Regions from separate parts of the Homo sapiens genome. Here region 2 is linked to region 1. The links come from fine-mapping of genetic effects on gene expression. Tissue or cell type: spinal cord. Region 1 holds a variant in brackets; the other region holds the start of a gene. All regions are shown on one strand. Distances are between the middles of the regions.

Region 1 (12,138 bases):
CCTATGGCTCTCCCATATCAATGTGTTTCCTAAAGCAACACTAAGCTCAATATTTTGGCCAATGCACTATTATAAAGACACTAGAAACTAAATGCTAAGTTTTACAGAATGTAAGTCAGTAAACGCCAAATGAAAGCAGATCTTCACATGTCATGAACTGAACTACTCTCTACCTGTTCTGGAAAAGAAATGTAATCCAAGAAACTAACATTAGCAGCAACAGGATACGCAAGCTTGTGCATACCAAATACAGGCATGTCTTGTTGTGCTTCAAGTTACTGCATTTTGCTTTTTTGTGTTCTGTGCAGATATTGTGTTTCTTACAAACTGAAAGTTTGTGGCAATCCTGCATTGAGCAAGTCTATCCCCACTATTTTTGCAATAGCATGTGCTCGCTTCGTGTCTCTGTGTCACATTTTGAAAATTCTCACAATGTTTCAAACTTTTTCACTATTATTATATCTGGCATGGTGATCTATGACCAGTAATCTTTGATGTTATTGTCATTGTTTTGGGGTGTCATAAACTGTACCCACAAAATATGGTGAATTGAATAAATGTTATGTGTGTTCTGTCTGCTCCACCATCTGGCCATTCCCTCTTCTCTGCCTCTCTCCTTGGGCCTTTCCTATTCCCTGAGACACAATATTGAAATTAGGCCAATTAATAACCCTACAATGGCCTCTAAGTGTTCAGGTGAAAGGAAGAGTTGCATGTCTCTCACTTCAAATCAAAAGCAAGAAATTATTGAGCTTAGTGAGAAAGGCACATCAAAAGCCAAGATAGCTGAAAGCAGGCCTCTTGTGCCAAACAGTCAAGGTGTGAATGTGAAGGAAAAGTTATTGAAAGAAATTAAAAGTACTTCTCCAGGAACACACGAATGATAAGAAAGTGAAACAGCCTTATTGCTGATACGGAGAAAGTTTGAGTGGTGTGGATAGAAGATCAAACTAGATACAACATTCCCTTAAGCTAAAGCCTAATCCAGAGCAAAGCCCTAACTCTTCCATTGTATGAAGGCTAAGAGAGGTAAAGAAGCTGCAAAAGAAAAGTTGGAAACTATCAGAGGTTGGTTCATGAGGTTTAAGAAGCCATCTCCAGAACATCAAAGTGCAAGGGAAGCAAGTTCTGATGTAGACTCTGCAGCAAGTTATCCAGCCAATCTGGCTAAGATCATTGATGAAGGTGGCTACAGTAAACAACAGATTTTCAGTGTGGACAAAACAACCTTTTTTTGGAAAAAGATGTAATCTAGGACTTTCATAGGTAAGGAGGAGGTGTCAATGCCTAGCTTAAAAGCTTCAAAGGACAGGCTGACTCTCTCATTAGGAACTAATACAGCTGGTGACTTGAAGTTGAAGCCGATGCTCATTTACCATTCCAAAAGTCCTAGGGCCCTTAGGAAGTATGCTAAATCTACTCTGCTTGTGCTCTATAAACAGAACAACAAAGCCTGGATGACAGTACATCTTCCTACAGCATGGTTTACTGAATATCTTAAGGCCATTATTGAGACCTACTGCTCAGAAAACAGATTTCTTTCAAAATATTACTGCTCACTGACAATGTACCTGGTAACCCAAGAGCTCTGATGGAGATGTACAAGGAGATTAATGTTGTTTTTATGCCTGTCAACATAATATTAATTCTGCAGCCCAAGGATCAACGAGTAATTTTGACTTTCAAGTCTTATTATTTAAGAAATGCATTTTGTAAGTACAGTTGCCATAAATAATGATTAATCTGATGGATCTGAGCAAAGTAAACTGAAAATCCTCTGGAAAGAATTCACCATTCTAGATGTCATTAAGGACATTTGTGATTCATGGGAGGTCAAGATAGCAACATTAACAGGAATTTGAAAGAAGTTGATTCCAACCCTCGTGGATGACGTGGATGAGGGTTTGAGGGGTCCAAGGCTTCAGTGAAGGAAATAACTACTGATATGATGGAAACAGCAAGAGAATTAGAATTGGAAGTGGAGCGATAAGATGGGACTGAACTGCTGCAATCTCATGATCAAACTTGAGTGGATGAAGAGTTGCTTATTATGGATGAGCAAAGAAAGTGGTTTCTTGATATGGAAACTACTCCTAGTGAAGATGCTGTGAACGTTGTTGAAAAGACAACAAAAAATTTAGAATATTACATAAACTTAGTTTATAAGGCATAGGCAAAGTTAAGAGGATTGACTCCAGATTTGAAAGAAGTATTACCATGAATAAAATGCTATTTCAAACAGCATCACATGCTACAGAGAAATCTTTCATGAAAGGAAGAGTCAATCAATGCAGCAAACTTCATGACTGTCTTATTTTAAAGAGCCACCCCAACCTTCAGCAACCACCAAACTGATCAGTCAGCAGCCATCAACATCAAGGCAAGACTCTCTACCAGAAAAAAAAAAATTGACTTACTAAAGGCTCAGATGATCCTTAGCATTTTTTGGCAATAAAGTATTTTTAATTAGGTATTTACATTTTTTAGACATAGTGCTATTGTATTCCTAATAGACTACAGTATAATTTAAACATAAATTTTATATGCACTGGAAAACCAAAAACCTCATGTGACTCATTTTATTGCAATATTTCCTTTATTGTGGTGATGTGGAACTGAAATTGTAATATCTTCAAGATATGCCTGTATAAGGTCATTACTTAATCAGTACTTTTTCATCACATTAATAGGACTAACTTTTAGTTCATCTTAACCCCACTACCAACATACACATGTACATGCACTCACAAACACATAACAAACTTTTTTTTTTTTTTTGAGACGGAGTCTTGCTCTGTCACCCAGGCTGGAGTGCAGTGGCCGATCTCGGCTCACTGCAACCTCCACCTCCTGGGTTCACACCATTCTCCTGCCTCAGCCTCCCAAGTAGCTGGGGCTACAGGTGCCCGCCACCATGCCCAGCTAATTTTTTGTATTTTTAGTAGAGACGGGGTTTCACCGTGTTAGCCAGGATGGTCTTGATCTCCTGACCTCGTGATCTGTCTGCCTCGGCCTCCCAAAGTGACATAACAAACTTTTACCTATCTTGTTCACTAGTGCTTTAAGTTCATATTCTGTACTACGTGATAGTTAATTAACTCAGTGATATAACCCAAGTTAATATGACAGTGAGTAGTAATGAGTTTAAAATCTTGATCTTTCCTACCAGCAGCCTATACCTTGATTCAGAACACTGACTCAAAGATGGGAACACAGAAGGCAGTCAGTATACAGAGTTTGGGGCAAGCAGGCCTATTAGCCAAGTTACAAGAAATATACAGTCCCCTGCCTGTGAGTGTGGTGTGTGTGTGTGTGTGTGTGTGTGTGTGTGTGTGTGTGTGTGTACCTGCATGCATCACAGACCTGTCTAGGTATGTGGTCTATACATTTATATTACACATTTGTGAAGAAAAACTCATTTCAGATGAGAATGTACAGAGCACCTAGTAAAACACAGATACTATGCAAAATTCCCCAGATGTGGAATGTGCCTAGCAAAACTCAATTATAATCAGTGATTTATTGCTAGATAGTCTATAATACCAATGCTAGACTAAATCCACTGTACAATTCTCTGTCATGAGCTCACACCAGGTTATGTTCTGCCAATTCAGTTACACCTAACTGCAATATTTTTTTTAAAAGAACCACAGTGGTGCTTTCAGTTTTCCTCCATCCTTAAGATCCCACCTCACTCTGAACAGAAGATATCACTCTCTACTTTGAAATCAACATTTTTCATCAACTGGTCACAGGTTAGGCCTTTGAAACTCTTCCTTTCTGGCTCTGCATCTATTCCCTCCATCCATCTCTTCTCCTTCCTCTTGTGGCCGAATCCCATTCATTCCTAATAGCTGAGGGACTGTGTGCCTACAATAGTCCCTTCTTCTCTGGTGTGTTCAAATCCTCCCTTTTCAGTGTTACCCTCCCCTTCTACCCTGTGCTTGGCACTGGAAATTCTAAGGTGAGTAAGACAGGTCTCTGCCATCAGGAATTCTTAGTCTATCAGAAGAAGCACAGGGCGAAACAGCCAATGCCAGGTAATGAACATTAGAGTAAAGAGAAGAAATGGGGTGACAGGAGAGGGACTAATCCTGCCAGGAGTGGGCAGGGTGAGCTTGCAGAAGGACTTGATAAAGATTTGTTAATTGAGTTTTTTTTTTTTTTAAAAAAAGGACTTCCTTTCTACCCAAATAATGGATTGAATAACATGAGAACCTTATTGCTTGAAGCATTGGATGGACTCTGTTTCAGAATTACTTAAATGCATAGTTGCGCTCTCCCAAGAAAGCAAGGGAGCACTCCCAAAGTCATAAAATAAAGACTCATTGAAAAACAGAGTGATGTCCTACGAAGAATCTTTGCCTGAAGTGTTTTAATGGTCTCAGCAGCCCAGAAGATTGGGTTTAATGGCTACTGAGGGAAGGGGAGACATCTTGCCCATGTGTGGTAAGGAGTTAGAACTAAATAAGGCAGTACCCCCAAAGGGCCATGTCTTTATTCAAATAATGATAATAGAAAAATATGACCAGTAGCCAAAGGAAAAAACAAGAAATGTTTCTGGTCTCAGCCTAAGTCTTTGATGAGTGAGGAAAGAAGGGTTCCCTGGAGCCCTTTAACTGAAAAATTAACATATAAAATGGTTCCATACTGGTAATGCATTTGGGGTTAACTCACAATTACAGGACTCCCCCAGTTAAAGTTTCATTGGACATAGGCTCACCATTCAATATTATGAAACACTTGACAAAACTATCCATCATGAAAAAGACAGTACAAACAACAGGCCCTTTAGAACTTCAAATGATAGACTGATCGAATATTTTGTAAAATAACTATGTTTAAATAAAGATGTTAAAAAATAACTCAAAGCATCAGAAAGGAACAGGCCAACTTGACAAAGAACCAGACAGAACTCCTAAAAATAAAAGTATCGTGTATGAAATTTCACTGGACAAGTTAAAAAGCAAAGAAGAAAAGTGAAAATGTCAGTAATATATTGGAATTTGAATCTTGGAAATTACCCAGAATATAGCACAGAGCTAGAGAAGGTGAAAAATGGGAAAGAGATGCTAAGAAATATGAAACATGCAATTGAAGAGTCCAACATTCTTTTTTTTTTTTTTTTTTTTTTGGGACGGAGTCTTGCTCTGTCACCCAGGCTAGAGAGCAGTGGCGCAATCTCGGCTCACTGCAAACTCTGCCTCCCAGGTTCTCCCCTTTCTCCTGCCTCAGACTCCCAAGTAGCTGGGACTACACGTGCCCGCCACCATGCCTGGCTAATTTTTTATATATTTTTTAGTAGAGACAGGATTTCACCATGTTAGCCAGGATGGTCTCCATCTCCTGACCTCGTGATCCACCCACCTCGGCCTCCCAAAGTGCTAAGATTACAGGCATGAGCCACCGCGCCCAGCCTCCAACATTCTTTTTATAGGAGCAGCAAGAAGGCCAGTATGTCTGCAGCAGAGTGAAGTGGAGAGTAATAGAAGATGAAGACACAGAGGAAAATGAAGGATCTATTATGCAAGGCCTTGTAGGTCCTCCTAAGGACGTTGACTTTTCTTCTGAGTATGCAGAGGATCCATTTGAGGGTTCTGAGCTGAGTGACATAATCTGACAGACACACAAACAGGATCATTCTGACAATAGTCACAGGCAGACTAAGAGGGATCAAGGGTAGATGCAGGAGGATGTGCTTAGATGCAGTTGCCATAATCTAGGGAAGAGATGATGGTGTCTGAGATTTGAGGGTAGCAAAGTGCTGGTGAGAAGTAACTGGCTATATTCTGAAGGGAGAGCCAATAGGATTTCCTGACAATTTGGCAGTGGGATATGAAAGAAAGAGAGACAAAAATCTCCCAAGTTTGACGTCTGAGAAAATAATGAAATTGCCACTAGCAGAGATAGGGAATGACACAGATGGTACAGATTTGGGAAAGGAAACCAGGAATTCTGTTTTGGATGGAAATCAGTAACTCAGTAAGTTTGAGGTGTCCACATGTGGCGAGCTGCCTCCTGGATACCAAGATATACAGATCTGGGCTTTATTCTGCCCACCAAATCCTTTACTGAGGTACTCTCTTGCCAAAGCACACGTAGGAACAAGAAAAGAGGTAAAAAGGAGGAAGATTAGAGACCATTCTCGCCCTTAAGGATGTTGAAATCTGAGAAGGGAAGAAGGGAGGCTTTTCGGCACCTATTGCAGAGCCTGAGCTGGAACAGCAGGTGCTGCCTTGCTCATCTGACACTTGGAAAGGTATCAGCAGCAAAACAAGATGGGGACATTCAAAAACTGGTTCTTAGAAACAAAAACATACTGCCATGTTGACCATCTGGTTCCTGGCTACAGCAGACAAAACACTTAGTGACAACATAAGAAAATGAAACCACATCAACCATTTTGTGAGAAAACCGCCCCCAAACTCTTCCCTTTTACAGTTCAGTTCTCCGGGTAGAATTTGGCCTTCAGGGCTATTTTCTTTGGAAATCATGATTATTTTCCAAAGAAAAACATGTTCAGGTTTTCTAATGGTCAAGGAAGAGGGCTAGACTAAGAACTGGGCGGCCCAAATTACCCCTGGCTCCCTGTGGACCAGCCCAACCCTGCTGTGCCTCGTGACTTGGTTTCTCAATGTGTAAATACTGCCACAGGGAAAAGAATATTTTCCACTGCCTACACACAGAACTTTGTTGAGGGTTAATGAATTAGTGTGTATAAAATACTATGAGCTACTCAAATAAAGGGACAATGAAATTCTATTCTTAGTGTTAAGGACAGAGCAATTTTAACCCTCTTCTTACAAACCCCACTGGAAATTAGACTAAGATACCAGGAGTTCTCTTGCATGGGCCTATGCAGATAAAAGGAGATAATGTGTTAAAGGTCTCTGTGAAGTACAGTTCCAATGTAAGGATATGTAGAAATAATTTCTCAAGATAAAACACAATATTAAACAGGTCAAAAATCATTAAAAACTACCAAGAAGCTGTCACTCTTGTAAGTCTCCACATAAAGGTTAAACATGTTGACCTGTGAACCATAGTTAGGCCAAACTCCTAGTTGTTGTGCAAGCTCAGAGCATGACAAACCCAAGGAGAAAATATGGACTTTTGTTCAAGAGCCATAGAATTGAGCACATTGTAAAAGCTGTCCATGAAAAGAGCTTTGTTGAAGGCGTTATTCCTCATTTTCTAAATGCTGTCCAGCTCCACTAAATGGTGACAATTAACA[T/C]TGAAGTGAATAGGCCACTGTACAGATTCTATTCATAATCCAAATAGACAGTTTTCCTTGCCCAATGAGATTTTACATTAGTATTCAAACAACCTTTCATTTTGTCTAAATCCTGGCTCAGAACATGCCAAAGACCAGATGAATGCACCATCTGGAGGCAGAATCTCTCCCTGACAGAGCAAGGATGTGCTTAGATTACTGTGAACGTCAGGTTTTCACATGCCTTGACTTTTCATTTCAGAAAAAAAAGGAGTGGTAACTAGAAAATGATCAGACACACAAGGGGTAGAAACAAGCAATGAGCTAAACCTGACACCATGATGAATCTGTATCTGGATGAAAGAGATGACTGAGTTCATTCTGGCAGCATTTCACTGGGTGGGCCAGCATAATTATGCCACTGTGTTCACCTGAGGCAAGAAAAGTCTGATGACTTCCCCAAGGTCAATGAGTTCTAATCCCCATCTGCTAATGACTCATGGTGAATTCCAGATTTCTGGTTCCGTGTTTACTGCACACAGACACTAATCTCCTGACTGGTCCCCCCACTTTCAGACTTTCAGCCCCAGCTCTCTCCAGGCCATGAGGCCCACGACTAAAGATTCAGCTTCTAAAAATGCTGCTCTGGGTGCCTAGCCCACTCCCCTACTGCCAATCTCTCAGTGGCTCCTAGAGAGGAAAGGCCTCTCCCTGTACCTGCCATTTGAGGCTGGTGTTGAGAGCCCCTCGAGTGCCTCAGGCCATGCTTCCTTCCTGGTTTCTCCAGAGCAGACATTTATGGGGTTCTGGTTGTCTGGCATCCTTCCCTTTTTTCTGCTAGCACCTGGATCTCCCTTCTGGGGAAATCCCCCATTGTGAATAGCACTGACAGGAAGTAGGATCCCATTGTCCTTACAGAAGCCAATGGGATTTCATTGTCCCTCTCCCTGCCCCAGTGCAGCCAGGGGCTGGTACATGACTAGGATGCTTAAGCAGGGGTCCACTCTTAAGCAGATAATAACTTAAGCACCCTAACTTAAGGAGAGAAGTTAGGGTGATATTTAGACACCAAAAAGTCTATTTATGTTGTTTGCACCCAAAATGGCTGAAGCACTCTATGACTGAGGCCCCTTTCTTTCATACACCTTTTCTATGCAAACTCATTCTACCCAGGGTGGCCGATTGAGTATCCCTGCATACCACATATACACTTCCACCTCTGTGCTATCTTCCTGGAAAACACAGAGTAGAAGTGCCATGACGGGGGGGAACAGAGGGCAGGAATGCCAAACCTGGTCCAAGGGCTGGAAAGGAGCTGTAGGGGAAGCCCAGAGGAGACTGGATGTTGTGCTTAGTTTTGATGGATGAACACAGTTAGCTAGGCTAAAGGGAAGGACAGATAGGGGCTATAGAGAGGAGGCACATTTCAGCACCTTCCAGCACATGCATGGAGCACAGAGAACATGTGAAACTCTGTGCAGGAGTTGATATTCCTTCCATGTAGCTATGTGCAAGACACAAGGAGGCAGAAGCTGAGACGAGAGACATAAGCAAGGGTCTCCTCACTAGGCACCTTGCATGCTGCACTGAGGACAGGAATCTCCATCCCGAAGTTAAGAGAGCCTTAGAAGAAGCATAAGCATATATCCTCAAACTCCTACCAGAGATCAAACTTCTGCTTTTCCTAATTAGTTTCTTGAAATTACTAATATTCACTCAATATACTCGATATACAGACACCTCCATAAAATACGGTGTAATATTCAGCCAAGACACTTGCTTTGAACTCATTCCAAAATAATTTAATTTTGTATATGTAACCTGAAAATCAACCCCTCACATCGCTGAGCAAAGCAAGAAGTAGAAGTAGCTGCAGTGTGCCCAAGTGTCAGGTGTGGGAAGAACCAAGGCAAGAAACAGTCATGCACACTTGGAGCAGGGCCCCTCACTCTGCCTCTAACTGGATGTGTGGCGCTGGGCAAGTTGTTTAACCTCCTTAAGCCTCAGTTTCCTTATCTGTAAAATAGAGCTATTGACCAACAGCTACAAGACCATTAGGCTGATGATGCCAAATGTATGTAAAGTACCTGATACACATTAACTACACACTGACGGCATCTTTCTTTCCAAGAAGTAGTTCCCTTAACAATGGAAGATGTGTCCCTTGCACCCTGAGGCATCACTGAAAAACCAATGGTCCAGGAATGAGGAGATTTGGGTTCCTCCATCTGCCCGTTTTCTAACTGTGTGATACTGAGAGGTCACTCAACCACTTGAAAGCTCAGTTTCCCCATCTGTAAATTGGGGATAATAATCATTGGCCACTCCTGGACATACAAGGATTAAGTGAGATCTGTGGAAGCTTTAAAGGATTCCAGATGTATAACATATTATTACTGCCAAATATCTGTGTACTTATAAATGACCTTTTCGGAGCAATATTTCTGACACCACCTTTGAATTTCCAGTTCAACCACTTTCCTCATGTCACTCATAAACCTACAAAGACTCTTTATTTCTTATTATGCTTCTCAACTGTTTGGCTTCCAGCCCTCCTGAATGTGGCCCCACCCTGCCTAGCCCCTAATGCTATTTCCTTCTGCTCCCCCAAATGTGCATACCGTGCCCTCTCATGTCCCACACTCATTCCCACTCCTGCTCCTTTGCTCATGCTGGTGCTCCTGCCCAAAATCCCACAGACCCTCTCTCTCTATGAATAGCTAAATCCTAAAACCTGCCTCACTTCACTTCCTCCATGAAGCCCTCTCTGATGAGTCTATAGCAGTAAGAATTTTCTGCTAGTTCTAAACTCCTCATCAGACTTTTAGTTGCCATTATATGACTTGACTAACTTCTCTAATTATTTACTTTCCACTAGTGTGACCTTCTCAACTAGATAATAAGCTTCGTGAGGGAAGAGATCATATTGTCTTTTATATACCCCATTCCCTAGCACTTAAAAATAGTTACAACATAGAGAAGGAGAACATGGACTGGCAGTTCTCAAACCTCTTTGCAACCCCAAAACTTTTATCCTCAATTTATCTCCACAAACCTTTAACAAGCACTTACTCTGCACTTGAGGCCCAACGGAACCAAAATGAGGTAACTTCACAGGTCTCCGAAGCCTGAGAAACAAACAGGTCAATGACAAACAACAGAGCATGGTAGCTGGGCCTAGGATGGTTGTGGCATCAGATTCTGACTCAGACTTGCCATTGACAACCATAGTTAAAACAGAATTGCCTCTCCCCTTGCAAGAATTGAGCCATAAGTTCAGACAAAGATATACTTCACGAGTTATAAGAAAAATGTTGGAAATAGCCTAAAAGTCCCACAATGAGAATAATACAGAAACAGATAATTGTATATATAGTCACTGAATATGATCATTTTTAAAGGGCATTTAATAACATAAAAAAATTAGTAATGTAAAAAGTGAAAAATAAAAGATTTTCAGTGTATACACTAGATGATCTCAATTGTGTTCACAAGAAATAACAACAAGCTGTCATTGACTGCAGGTTTTCTACACACCAGGCCCTATATGTTAGCACTTCACAAAGTAAAAGCAACAAGAATAGCTTGGGAGACATATTAACATTCCCCACAATCTCTACCAGCTTTCCCTAAATAATCAATCTAAGTAAAACAACATGTTTGGTTTCAAAACAAGATCTTCTAATGCAATGATTTTCCCTCCATTATTGCTATCTGGAAAATCTGGAGTTGCTTCAACATAGTGTAAGTATTCTGCACAACAATCCATAAATAATGTTACTATTCCCACTTTATGAATGAGAAAACAGACTGGGGTCCAATGTCACCAGCTAAAACACAGTCGAGCTGGTAAGTAAGCCCAAGTCTATCTCACTCCAGAGCTCATGACCTGGACCACACCTCCAAGAGCATTTTCCATTCCCTTCTTCTTAGGCTCAACCAAACCCAGTGACTGTTAAAACCCCACATATGTAAACAGGTCAGAGCTGAGTTCTCACGAAATCTTACCCAGTTCAAGCCCCCATTCTAATTTTCCTAAATGTCTAAGAACTAATTGTAGCATTTGTCTTTTGAAAGTACTTTGGTCTCTCAGAGTTTCTACTATTAATTCCTCCAAGCACTAGTTGTTGGGACACGTTTACAAAAGCTTTTTCTTTGGATACATCAGAAGGTATTTATAACTTTGGGAGGCTGAGGTGGGTGGATCACTTGAGGCCAGGAGTTCAAGACCAGCCTGACAACATGACAAAACCCTGTCTCTACCAAAAATACAAAAAACGAGCTGGGCATGGTGGCACATGCCTGTGGTCCCAGCTACTTAGGAGGCTGAGGTGGGAGGATCGCTTGAACCCGGGAGGCAAAGGTTGCAGTGAGCCGAGATTGCACCACTGTACTCCAGCCTGGGCAACAGCCTGGGTGATAGGGTGAGACATTGTCAAAAAAAAAAATTAAGAAGAAGGAAGAAGAAGCCTATGTATACAGGTAATTTCCATCATTAGAAAACATCTCTCAGCTGGGCGCGGTGGCTCACACCTGTAATCCCAGCACTTTGTGAGGCCGAGGCTGGCAGATCACGAGATCAGGTGTTCAAGACCAGCCTGGCCAACACAGTGAAACCTCATCTTTACTAAAAATACAAAAATTAGCTGGGTGTGGTGGCATGCGCCTGTAGTCCCAGCTACTCAGGAGGCTGAAGAGGGAGAATCACTTGAACCCAAGAGGCGGAAGTTGCAGTGAGCTGAGACCATGCCATTGCACTCCAGCCTGGGTGACAGAATGAGACTCCGTCTAAAAAAAAAAAAAAAAAAAAAAAAAAGAAAGAAAGAAAACATCTCTCAGGTGATGAACGGGCCAGATTCCAATGCCTATAAGTGGATTACTTGCAGCTCTAAAACAAGCATACACACTACAGTAGACCAGCTTAC
Region 2 (12,138 bases), 31 kb after region 1:
CCATAGGCAGTACTAGTCCTGGCTAACAGAACTGGAGAGTTCACAAGGGAGAAACAGCAGGAGGCAGTTGACACACCAACAGCATAACAGTAACACCATGAGAAATAGCAGGTGTTACCCTTTCCCTAGGCACTGTGCAATGTAGGAAGCCAGAAACACCTAAAGATTAGGAAAGTAGCTATCAAACCCAGCTGTACATTAGAATCACCTCTTTAGAAAATGATGCCAGGTCCACTTGAGAGATTCTGAACCCAGGTGGTTCCAGTGAACAACAGGGCTTGAAATCCTGGGTTAGAGGCTCAAAGTAAAGAACCCATAGTCAGTAGTCTCATTAATCACTGAATATCCTCTACCTTTCAGAACTCTAACACCTGATCATACAGCAAACCAGGAGGCTGGTGAAGCAAGAAAAGGAGAAGCACTGTTGAAAAAGAACCAGTGACAATGTACAGACAGTAAATCAGGGTCTTAGTGGGAAAAGACAAAAATATAAGCCCCCGAGGGACTTTGTCTGAACCATCCAGCCCAATGAAACCTCTTGCTTTTCACCATACTTAAAAGTCCTTCATGAGACTTCTTTGCCTGATAGAAATTATTTTTATCATAAAATTAAACAGTCAGCCCACTTGTCTTTCCTCTTTCCAGAGCTATACCACCCCTCTTCTACATGAGGGGTTCTTCAGAAGAAGAGGACTAGGGCAGCCATATGGCCCACACAAGGAATCTGGACTTGCATGTCTGAAATCTCTTTGGACTAAGTCCAGGAAGATAACTCCAAGTCATTTAAACCTGATGACTGTCTGGTAGTCAAGGAGAGATAAGGAATAAGAGTGACAGCTCATCATCTATTCAAATGCCTATTGCAGGCACAATGCTAACCTTTTAGACAGTACCTTTCCAGTAGTGTTGACCAAGACAAGTAAAGCAAATTGACAAATACATCACATTCACATTCAATTCATCAAGACTGAGTAGAATGTTAAAAAATGGGTTGCTCTTAGAGGTCATCCAGTCTAATCCTTTCCATTTTACTGGATGAGGAAACTGGGACCAGATAGGGTTCCAGTAGGAATATTCACCCAAGGTCACAAAACTGGAAAGCCAGAGGACTCCATCCCTTCCTCCAACTCCCAGCCTAGGGCAATTTCTCCTGGGGTCACACTGACATCTCACTACCTTCTGAAAGCTGAAAAACCTGCTACCCTTTTATCCTTTTTAAATGGTTATTTTCCATTTGCTATAACTACAACTTACTCTCTGTCAGGCACTACCAGGAGGGTTCTCTGTAAATTAAATCACGGAGTCCTCACAACAGTTGAAGCAGGTTACTATTATTATCCGCATTTTACAAATGGAAAAACCTGAGGTAGAGAGAGGTCACATAGCCAGGGCAAAGTTGGGGCTATTTAACCCAGACAGTCTGGCTCCAAAGTCCACATTCTAACCCCCTTCATGAGAGTTTATGAAATATAATTTCTTGAATTATAAAATGATGGAAGAAAAGGAGTAAGTCTTAAACAGAAAGGGCATGGTCACTAGTGTTTGATAATGAATTGAAAAGCTAAACCATAAATGTCATTAATATATACAATATACGCTTCATCTATTTATTAAGGGAATGTCTATTATATATATTTGAAGCATATTAACATTTCAAGTGTATATTTTTTAAAGGCACAATGATCATGTGCACAGCAGTCACACAAAGCTTGCCACTAGAAATAGGCAGAATGCTATTTGCCTGCTGGCTTTGGAAAGGTCTCTTCTGAACAGGCTACTATGGAGAGCAAAGCCACCACTGCTGATTTCTGCCTGTTGGTCCTCACTCATAGACACATTTTCATCTGCTCTTAAGAGAACATCGCTTGTATGTTAACTTTCTACAGAAATCAGACCTCGAGTTATTTATAATTGAGGGAAAGATTAAACTAAAACAAGAGAAAACACCTCTGAAAATTAAAATACATTTTTATACAAGTGTTCAAAACCAGTATCACTGGAACAAATGCCCACTATTCAATTATATACTTTTTTACTTTCTCTCATTAAAAAATGATGTCAGATCTCATTATCTTGGTTATCCAGGAGAAGAAGTCCAGGAGCAATAATGTTACAAATAAGCAAATTACTATTGTGCCTGAGATCAAATTTCAAGGGAAAAATGGAAGTCAATTAAGAAGATGCACTATCACATTAAAAAAATAAGTTACATGACTTATTTTGCCAGTCAAATGTCTTTAATTTTTTTTTTTTTTTGAGACAGAGTCTTTTTCTGTCACCCAGACTGGAAATGTGGTGGCACCATCTCAGCTCACTGCAGCCTCTACTTCCCCAACTCAAGCTATCCTCCCCACTCTGCCTCTCAAGTAGCTGGGACTATAGGCACACACCACACACCACCATGCCTGGCTAGTTTTTGTATTTTTTTTGTAGAGACAGGGTTTTGCCATGTTGCCCAGGCTGGTCTTGAACTCCTGGGCTCAAGCAATCCTCCCACTTCAGCCTCTCAAAGTGTTGGGGTTATGTGCATGAGCCACCACCCCCACCCTGGCCAGCCAAATGTCTTAATGTGGAGTGTGCAAAAGTCTACTCCGAAAATGCAACAGACCCTAAAAACTCTAAAGCCAGAAAAGTGTCACCTTCAACACGGAATCCAAAGATCAGAGAATCAAAGCAAAGAGCAGTGCTGGGCACATAGTAAGACTTCAACAAATATTAGTTGAATGAATGTAAATGAAGAACATGTTCATAGAAAGAGAGCCCCATAATAGAGATTGTCAAAATGGCAAAATAGTAGAGTGACACTGCCTTGGGCTTCCGAGAACTTCCAATACCATGATAATAACAAAAGAACTAAGGGTCACAGAGACTGGACAAAATGGCAGAGTATCATACAAATGGAGCAAAATGCTCTGTGATACAGGACCTGACCTACACTTCTTAAGCAAGAAAAATATCTCAAAGCCCAGCTTTGCCTAAGTAGAGATGTGGACTCAAGTCTGACAGGGTGGCATATTTACAGCACAACTTTAGCATGGCAGAATTCCCTGAATTTGGTGCACTTCAAATGTAACACTGTTTTTACATCCTCAGTAGGAGTTGCCCAGGTTGACCCACCTCTTCATAACAAATCTTATTTAAGGTTATGGGCGGGGGCCGGTGGGGGGATCCCAGAGCTACTCTGCTTCACTAAAAGCAACATAAATACAAATGCAATTACACAAAACCTACACAAACCAGATCTGTCATATCTGATTAGTAAATAAAAGCATAATAAAATTATAGTCAGCCTAGGTAATTTAGGCTCTGTTCAGTACCATCCTAGCCATGCCCAAGTGGTGAGGCTTTTCCAACATTTATATCATGAATCTTTTTTTCTTGGAATTCAGTCCTTGGTCATAAACTGGCAGGACTTGTTGGAGCTTGGGTACCAATATAGTGGTGTACAGAATGTTTAATATAGAAGTAATAGTATATGCTGCAATTTGTTTTAATACCTACTTAGAACACATAGTCTTTTCTCACGGGGCATACTAAAGGAGGTCATGTATCAGAGCTCACCTGAAATTCCTGCCCAATTTAAGTCTTAGCCACAAGTGTAGTTTCTTATAAGAACACAATAAGAAAACATTCCAAACTCTTCTGCAGTACTCACATAATTAAAAAAAAAAAGTATGAAACCCACCCAAGTGAGGCTTCTGAGACATTTCATAGAAACTTAGTTATTAACTACTATTTTTCTTCTTTACCTTTAAGTGTTTATAAACTGCTTAAAGGACAGTTGGGTACTTCAGAGGAAAGTCTAATGACACGCCTGCTATACAACCTGTTCTTAGTTGGCCAGATTGTGTGGTTTTGATAAGGAAAAAAAAAAAGTCAAAAGCAGGACAAACACTGATTCTCTGTTCTCCATTCTCCCATTACCCAAGACATTCATCTGAGTCACACACTCTATAGCTAGCTCTGAGCCTCAGTTTCCCTAACCATTAGCTATAAGATCTGATGCTAGCCAAATTCCTATTTGATCAAAGTTAATCAGCCCAATAATCACATATAGAGTCCACATCAGAACATTACATTGAAATACTATGTTGTATTAAAAATTCCAAAGGGTTTTGCCATATTCATCTCTTTTCTGCAAATACTCCAAAGGGGTTACTTTGGCTATTAATCAAGATTAGGCAAATACCCATGTGCTTTAGGAATGTGTAACTAAAAACCCAGGACAGATCTAGAGAAACCTTCCCAGGTTTCCCAGAAGTCATCACTACGCTTGGATTGTCATGTACAAAGTAGATGCCACAGAACCTAACAAGGGTAGGTCCTTGATTTGTTTTTGCAGTGAAAACAGGATTTCACTTACACCTGACAGCTTCAGGGCCTAGGAACACAAGATAACAACGCTTCAGAAAGCCAGGGGCCCCATGGAACCCCAAATGATCAGTTCTTTATAAACGAAAATTAAAGATCTTACTTTCTTTGGATTTTGCCCAATTGGTGTGGTCCGTGGTGAACCTCTATAACTCCTGGTGTGAGGAGATGTGTGGATACCCAGGCAGGGGTCAAGGCGGGAGAAGCCGCACAAACACAGATGTTGCCACTGTTCCTCGGCCCACCCAGCCAACCAATGCGGGGACGCTGTGGGCCTATAGAGATGGATTCTTTCTTAGAAATCTAACTGGTCTCTGGGAAACCAAAGCTGGGTATCCAGGGCCGCCTGAGCACCCAGTTTCCATACAGCCCTCGACCCAAATGGTGCTTTCTTGGCCAAACACCGGCCTGTCATTCGGAAAACCTAAGCACGGGAAGGCTGGGGCACCACCACATACACCCCGGGTATTTAAGGGGAAACAAATCCATAAAATAAGCGTAAGGAGTCCCACATAATTCTGACCACCTTTCCCAACCAAGGTAACCATAAATGCCTTTTGAAACACAGCAGATGCTTCCACACGAGTAAGTGGTAGTGCGTGTGTCCTGAGCTTGCGTTCCGTCTGCATTCTGCGGTCCTGGCCCTGCCAAGCACCCTCAGTCCCGGAGCTGAAGCATGGATGGGAAGGGCGGACACCAACTCTCGACGTTCTCCCTTCTCCACCGCAGGAGTGCTGTTTATTTCCCTGTCTCCCGAAGGACACTGGCGGGGCTTTCACCCGCCCAGCCCCCGGCTCTCAGTGCGCCCGAGCGACCCCGCGCTCCGCAGCTGCCGCCGCCGCACGAGGCTGCGCCGCCCTCTCCACTTGTTGCCGCTCCCGAGGGAGCGGGAGGCGGCGCCCAGCCCTCGCGCCGCAGCGCCTGCAGCGGTTCCCCGGTCACCTCTGCTGACCCTCGCATCCCTGGGGACCCTGGAGAAAGTGGCCCTGCGGATGCGAACTCAGGTGGACAAACTTTTCCGCCCAGAGCTGCAGGGAAACGCAGACGATGGAGTCCCAAAGAGCATTTACCTGGAGCGATGGCCCCGCAGCCTCCAGAACCCAGGCGAGGCTCTGCCCCCGCGCCCTGCCTGAGGGCGCCTCGGAACGCGCCCCCAGCCAGCCGCCGCCCGGAGTCCGGAAGGCTCTCCCCGGCGATGCCAACGCCTGGCGGCGGCCGGGCTGAAGCCAAGGTTTAGGGGGTGGAGCCGCGGCCGCGCGCCCGGGCCCGGCTGGCTGCGCCAGCAGCGGGTGCCGCCCCCGCTCCCCCCGCTCCCCCCGCGCCTCCCCGCTGCCACTGGATCCCCGCCTGCCCACCTCCCGGCCCGGCTCGCGGCGGCCGCATCACATGGCGAGGCCCGCCCGCCGGCCGCGCCCGACACCGGCTCCAGGAGGAAACCTGAAGCTGCCCCTACCGCGCTGTCTCCGCCAGCCCCCTCCCGCTGCGGGGCTGCGGCCGTTGGCCTCCGGAGATCGGAGGCGCGGAGGCTGGCGCGGACCTGGCGGGCCACAGGAGTGCCAGTTGCGCCCCGGGCGCCCCCACGCCTTGGCGCCTCCCGAGGGAGGCGCTGGGCTGCCCGCTCGCGAAAGGAGTTGTGCCAGGCCCGAGGGAGGCTCAGGCTGTTCCCAGCCAAAAGCCACCACACCCGTGACATAATACGGCCCGGGTCTATTACAATAGGAAATATTATTTTTAAAAACAGCATTTGCCCTCTTATTTGAAGCTCATGTTCCCTGGCCGAGAGCTTTGCAAGCTGCGATTCCCTTCACGTTTATGCACGCAAGTGGCTGCAAGTCTTAATTCAAAAACGTATGAAAACCATAACCACTTTTACAATGAACAGCAATGTGAAGGGACTTCCTTATCCTCCAAAGCAGTTTTCCTCTTAGATGTGATGACAGCCCCAAGAGCAGAAGCCAAGCCTCTTCATCAGCCAGGCTCTCATATACAGACTTAAGACCATTATTGCAGCTTTAAAGGTAAAATTGCCCATCTGAGACTGCTGTGGCAGTAAGTGTTATAGTTAAGACTATTTGTAAGGAAATTAGTATTGAAATATAAAGTTTCTAATAAAATTTATAAAATCACCTTGAGTCTCTGCTTTGTTTTTCCTTTGAAGACTGGCTACGCACAGAACCATAACAAAGGTGTGGCCCGAGGAAGCTGGCCACCAAGATCCCAAGCCAGAATGGAGCCCAGCTCCCAGGCTGCCACCACCACTTCTCCTGGGCCTGGGCCTTTTCTGTCTCCCTTCCAGCCGCCACCTTCCCCAGCCCACCTTGCTGATACGAATGCTGAGAAAGGCTGAGATTAGCAAGAGAAAGACCATCGTGTGTCTGAATGCCTTAGCCCTGTTCCAAGGCAAAGGCTGCAATTCCGCCTTGGGAAAGGGACCCCAACACTGGCATTGCACTCCTGACCTGGGCTGTCATCCCAGCTGATTCCACCCTCAGCCCCACAGAGCTGTGAACTCAAGGCCTGGCCTCAGGCGCTGCCACAAAAAAAAAAAAAGAAAAAAAAAATATATATATATATCCTGCCCAGTGTCAAGGTACACAAGATAAAAATAAAAGCAATAATATTCTTTTCAAAAATAGAAAAAATTTTGAGCAGGGCGTGGTGGCTCACACCTGTAATCCCAGCACTTTGGGAGGCTGAGGCGGGTGGATCACCTGAGGTCAGGAGCTCGAGACCAGCCTGGACAACATGGTGAAACCCCGTCTCCACAAAAACACACAATTTAGCTGGGTGTGTTGGTGCGTGCCTGTAATCCCAGCTACTCGAGAGGCTGAGGCAGGAGAATCACTTGAACTGAAGATTAACTGAATCAACATGCCAGACAAAAATGGTTTCCAAACTCTGGTGAATAAACATGGTGATGTGTTAGAAGCCTTTGTTGTTATTGTCCTTTTTCATATCACTAGTACTGAAGCCCTCTTTTTCTTTTTTTTTTTTTTTTAATTCTGGCAGGTATGTATCTTTTTTTAAAAAACAAAAAAATGTGGAAAGAGGAACAAATATTATAAGAAGTTACCCCCAAGCCCCTTCCCCACTAAAAAGAAACCAGCAAAACTAGTAATTGTGAAACTCTCACCACCCAAGGACATACAATGCTAGCTGCAGTTTTCTTGCCTGCTCTCAAGCCCTGAGCTTGATCAATATTTAAATACGTACTTGGCTTTCAACTTCTCTAGGTTCAAATATTAAGCAAAGTGTTTGCTTCAGCAACCTTAAAAGAAGCCGTGACTATCTGAGGCAGGAAGCTATCAGTTGTGTAAATAACCCTTTGCACCTGATTGATTTCACTGCTCCAGATATAGGTCACTCAGGACATTGCTGGCACTAAGCTTGGCTGGGACAGCATTTGTTTTGAATTCAAAGACTATATATTCTCTACAGACAAGGGACATTCAGCCAGCAAGAAACCAGGCTGGCCATTCAGTTAGGGAAATTCTAACTGCCTAGTGAGTATTATGCCAATGTCCTAGCTCAGCTCTGTCTTTTCTAGAGATTCAATCCCCATTCATCCTTACATACTTCACTCCAGATAGACCTCCTCCATAAATCCTTACATTGTCCTGGTTTCTGCTACCCTCTGAATTTTGGCAAAGCATAATGGCCTTACTACACAGTGTAGCACCTGATTATATTAACTGTCACATGTTGGACAACTGTAGGCTCTTATCCTCCCTTCAACTTGAAATTCAAGGACAAAACCTGTTCCTTACCCCTGTAATCTTCACAGTCCCAACACAGGGCATTTCTGGAGTATTTAGTATTTGTTTTTTAATTGAACTATCACATCCATTATGCAAGAAGAAAAATGTCACCATTTTCAAACTTTAATGAATTATAACCACTGCTAATTATATTATCTATTTAATTATTTCCTGGCCTTCATTATATTTCCTTTGTCAATAATTCTCAAAAATTGGATAATTGTAAATCTGATGTTTAGCCACGTGAGTTAGGGAATTACTAGTGTTTCTTAAGTGAAAGCAAGATACTAGAAAATGGTAGATTTAATAGGAGGTGAACAAACTCTGGAATACAAATAGGATGATCTTGGGAAGATACAACCTTTCTAAGCCTCCATTTCCTCATCTGTATAATGGGCATAAGAACAGCATATACTATCATTGTGAGGATTACGTGACTGAAAGTGATTACAGGACACATAATAAGGATGTGGAAAATAGTGGCAGTTAATCTTTTAGTGTATGGTTGTATTAGGAGAACACTTCAGAGCTTTGAGATAATTAATAGGGCATGGCAGACCCCAAGACAAGAAACTATTTCTGGATTATAAACTTGGTTGTCCAGCCTAGGAAGGTCGGAGAACACAGAGAAAAGAGGCCAACATTATTAAAACCAGGGGACAGATCTCATGGGGAAATCCACACAGTAGTTCTCATTCTGGCTACACATTAGCATCACCTGGGAAGCTTTAAAACAATCTTGATTCCCAGAACGCCCACCTGATCAATCATTCGGAATCTCCAGAAAATTGGGCCCATGTTATTGGTCGTTTTTTGAAAGCTCTCCAGGTGATTCCAATGTTCAACCAAAGTTGGGAACCACTGGACTAAAGGAACTGAATGTATTGACACTGGAGGAGGGTGAGGATCGCACTCAATTATATGTGGTTAAGGGGAATCAGCTCTTCCATTTCCAATGTTAAACCATCAGGTTTAAATTGCAGGTGAGCAGGGCTTCCGTGTAATCTGCATATGAGTCACTTGGGGATCTTGTTAAAATGCAAATTCTGACTTAGTAGCAGATGGAGTCTGATATTCTTCATTTCTGATAAGTTTGAGTTGGGGCTGAGGCTACTGGTCTGTGGACCATACTCTGAGGAGCGAAATAATAGATTTAGAGAGAAATATTCAGATTTGTTACAGGAGAAGTCTTAACATCTCTGAATATTTTTAATCAACTGATATTTATTGAGCACCAACTATGCAAAAAATTAATATTTTGCAATCTTTGAAGAAAATAATAGGTTGTTTTTAGCCAGTTTTCAGTATGAGGTCTTCCCTAAAGGGGCAACTTACCTGTCAGGTATAGCAAGCTCAGTGCCTAGGGTCTATAATACTTATAGGGGCCAAAAAATATTTTAATTTCTTTTAAAATCAGAAGAGAAAAATGAACTTTTAGGTCAAAGAAAATGTTTTAGCATATAATATTAATATATTTGTATCTATAACAATGCAATAGTGAAATATAATTTTTCTTTTTATCTACATTTTTATTTTTCTGGAGGAAGGTGCGTATGAAGGCAAAAGTGCCCAGATCCTACAAAAGTCATAATGCAGCTATGTTCTTGAAGTCCATATTAGTCTCAGGTATTTTTAGGAAAGCACATGGAACTCATTGTGGCTGATATTTTCATGTTGGTATTTACATGAGCAAAAGGAAGATATTGGGGAAATTATAAATACGCCTTTTGAGTGGAGCCAGCCCAATAATTATGAAGAGTTCAACACTTTCCACGTGTGCAATTTGGAAACACTGGGGATGCTCCATTGACAAAACATTGTTTCTTTTCAGCTGATTCCTTAGGGTCTAAAATTCTATCACTAGAGATTTACTCCACCTCCAGAGCCAGTCTCTAGAGATTCACATTATTGAGACCCTTCCTTTGCATATTGACCTTTTTTTTTTTTTTTTGAGACAGGGTCTCACTCTGTCACTCAGGCTGGAATAAAGTGGTGCAGCTGCACCTCACTGCAGCCTCAATTCCCAGGCCCAAATAATCCTCCCACCTCAGCCTCCCAAGTAGCTGGGACCACAGGCATGTGCCACATACCTGGCTATTTATTTATTTTTGTTGAGACGGGGTCTCCCTATATTGCCCAGGTTGGTCTCAAACTCCTGGCGTCCAGCAATCCTCAGTCCTCCCGCTTCTGCCTCCAACTCCCAAAGTGCTGGGATTACAGGTGTGAGCACTGCGCCAGGCCTGACCTTCTTTTAGGTGCAATTTTTTACCCGCTAGAGCCAGGACCATACCTCAAGAACTTCTCAGGGGATTCACTCTGAAAAGAGGAAAATATAATAAAGAGATTCCATTTTATAGGAAACACCAATTCTATTCAGTTCCTAAATACTGAGATGTGGCCATTTGTAGCTAAAGGACATCACCATTGTCACTGTTCAATGCAGTAACCCCAACAAAAATTACTGACTCTTTCACTATCCACTATGGTAACTATTAGCCTCATGTGGCATTTAAATTTATTAAAATTAAGTAAAATGAAAAATTCATTTCCTCATTGCAGTAGCCACATACTGAGTGCTCAATAGCCACATGTTCCCATTGGACAGCACAGATCAAGAATATTTCCATCATCAGAGAAAGTTCTGTTGCACAGTCCTGTTTCAAAGGGCTTTGGGTAGAGAGGGAACCACCCTTCCTGAACATCCTGAAACACAAGGGTAGTTTGGGAAGTATTTAGACTCTAGCCCAGACACATTTTTTTCTTTCCACCTGTCAACCGATCCACAGCTACATAGACAATCAGTTACTCTGCTCCTTTCTAAACCTTCCAAACCAAAATTTCTAGGAAATCACCTTTTGGCTATATCTCCTGGCCTTTCAGAGAGCCAGACCTTTTTGACTTGTGAAGGGCTAGTAACTGCAGAGGTTTTTCTTAGGATCTAGAACAATCTTCATCTCAGAAAGTGAATATTTAGATCACTGCTTTTTCTTGCCAAAATGGCTCCAGGTATCCTCAAGTTGTAGCCAACTTCTTAAATTTTAAAACAACTCAAAGGCCCCTTTTTGATCTCCAGGACATAACTGTACAAGGCAGGCCAGCTGGATAATGTTCCAAATGCATGGTTTGTCTATAAATCTTCCATTAGTCAGCAGTTTTGTTTCCAGGCGCACCACCAGAGTGCTCAGGTGTGCAGAACAACTCAAAATCTAGGATTTCTCCAGTCCTCTAACACCTGCTGAACACTGACATAAACATGTTAAATCTCAGCCCAGAGCAAGTTTTCATAGTTATATAATAAAAACCCTTAAAAAACAGAGTTGATAATTGAGACACTAACACCATTTTAATTAGGGTGCTGCAACTAGTCACTGATAATACATGTGGGAAATAATGGGTGTGCAACTGTCACATGGGCTGTAATTATATTTAAGACTTCTGGTGACATGACAGATGGTGAGAATGAAGCTCTCATGTTCTGAACATGATGTCATCTGGAAGCTGCAAAATGCACGTATAGCTTTGGACAGCTATTATTCATTAAAGAGGATCAAGATCCTGTTTTTCTATTTACAAAGGGCGGGCAAAGGAAGGGAAAAGACAGGAAAATCTATAAATAAAATTGGTATGAATCAGTTTCCCACCCCTCAAAAAGATTATATATAAATATTTTAACTAAGTCTTTTTAAAATTCATTCAGATATATTTGACTGCTCATAACATATAACCCAAGAACTAAGTTTGGAACCTTCAGAGAAATACAAATCAAAACCACAAGGCAGTATCATCTCATCTCAGTTAAAATGGCTTGTATCAAAAAGACAGGCAGTAACAGATGCAGCTGAGGATGTGGAGAAAGGAGAACCCTCATACACTATTGGTGGGAATGTAAATTTGTATATCCACCACTATGGAGAGCAGTACGGAGGTTCCTCAAAAAACTAAAAATAGAACTTCCATATGATCCTGTAATCCCATTGCTGGGTATATATCCAAAAGAAAGAAAATCGAT

Direction of the effects. Positions count from the first base shown, and alleles are read on the strand shown. Sizes are in standard deviations (SD) of each study's normalised expression.
With allele C in place of T in region 1, the expression in spinal cord of the gene that starts at base 5,568 in region 2 is lower (moderate effect, 0.59 SD a copy in GTEx).

What was found. PIP is the estimated chance that this variant, and not a neighbour inherited with it, causes the effect.
Region 2: ARHGEF28 starts here. The variant in region 1 is fine-mapped to the expression of ARHGEF28 in spinal cord (GTEx, PIP above 0.99).

What each region holds. Positions count from the first base shown.
Region 1 is chr5:73,650,169-73,662,306 of GRCh38, reverse strand. The region is part of intron 1 of ARHGEF28 (Rho guanine nucleotide exchange factor 28); the gene reads right to left. Among named protein-coding and RNA genes, the nearest start is that of ARHGEF28, 30 kb to the right of the region's middle. The variant T/C (reference allele first, on the strand shown) is at 7,235.
Region 2 is chr5:73,619,626-73,631,763 of GRCh38, reverse strand. It overlaps ARHGEF28 (Rho guanine nucleotide exchange factor 28), which reads right to left and starts at 5,568. Exons shown (of 36, transcript NM_001177693.2): 1 at 5,442-5,568. RefSeq lists a silencer at 5,770-5,859.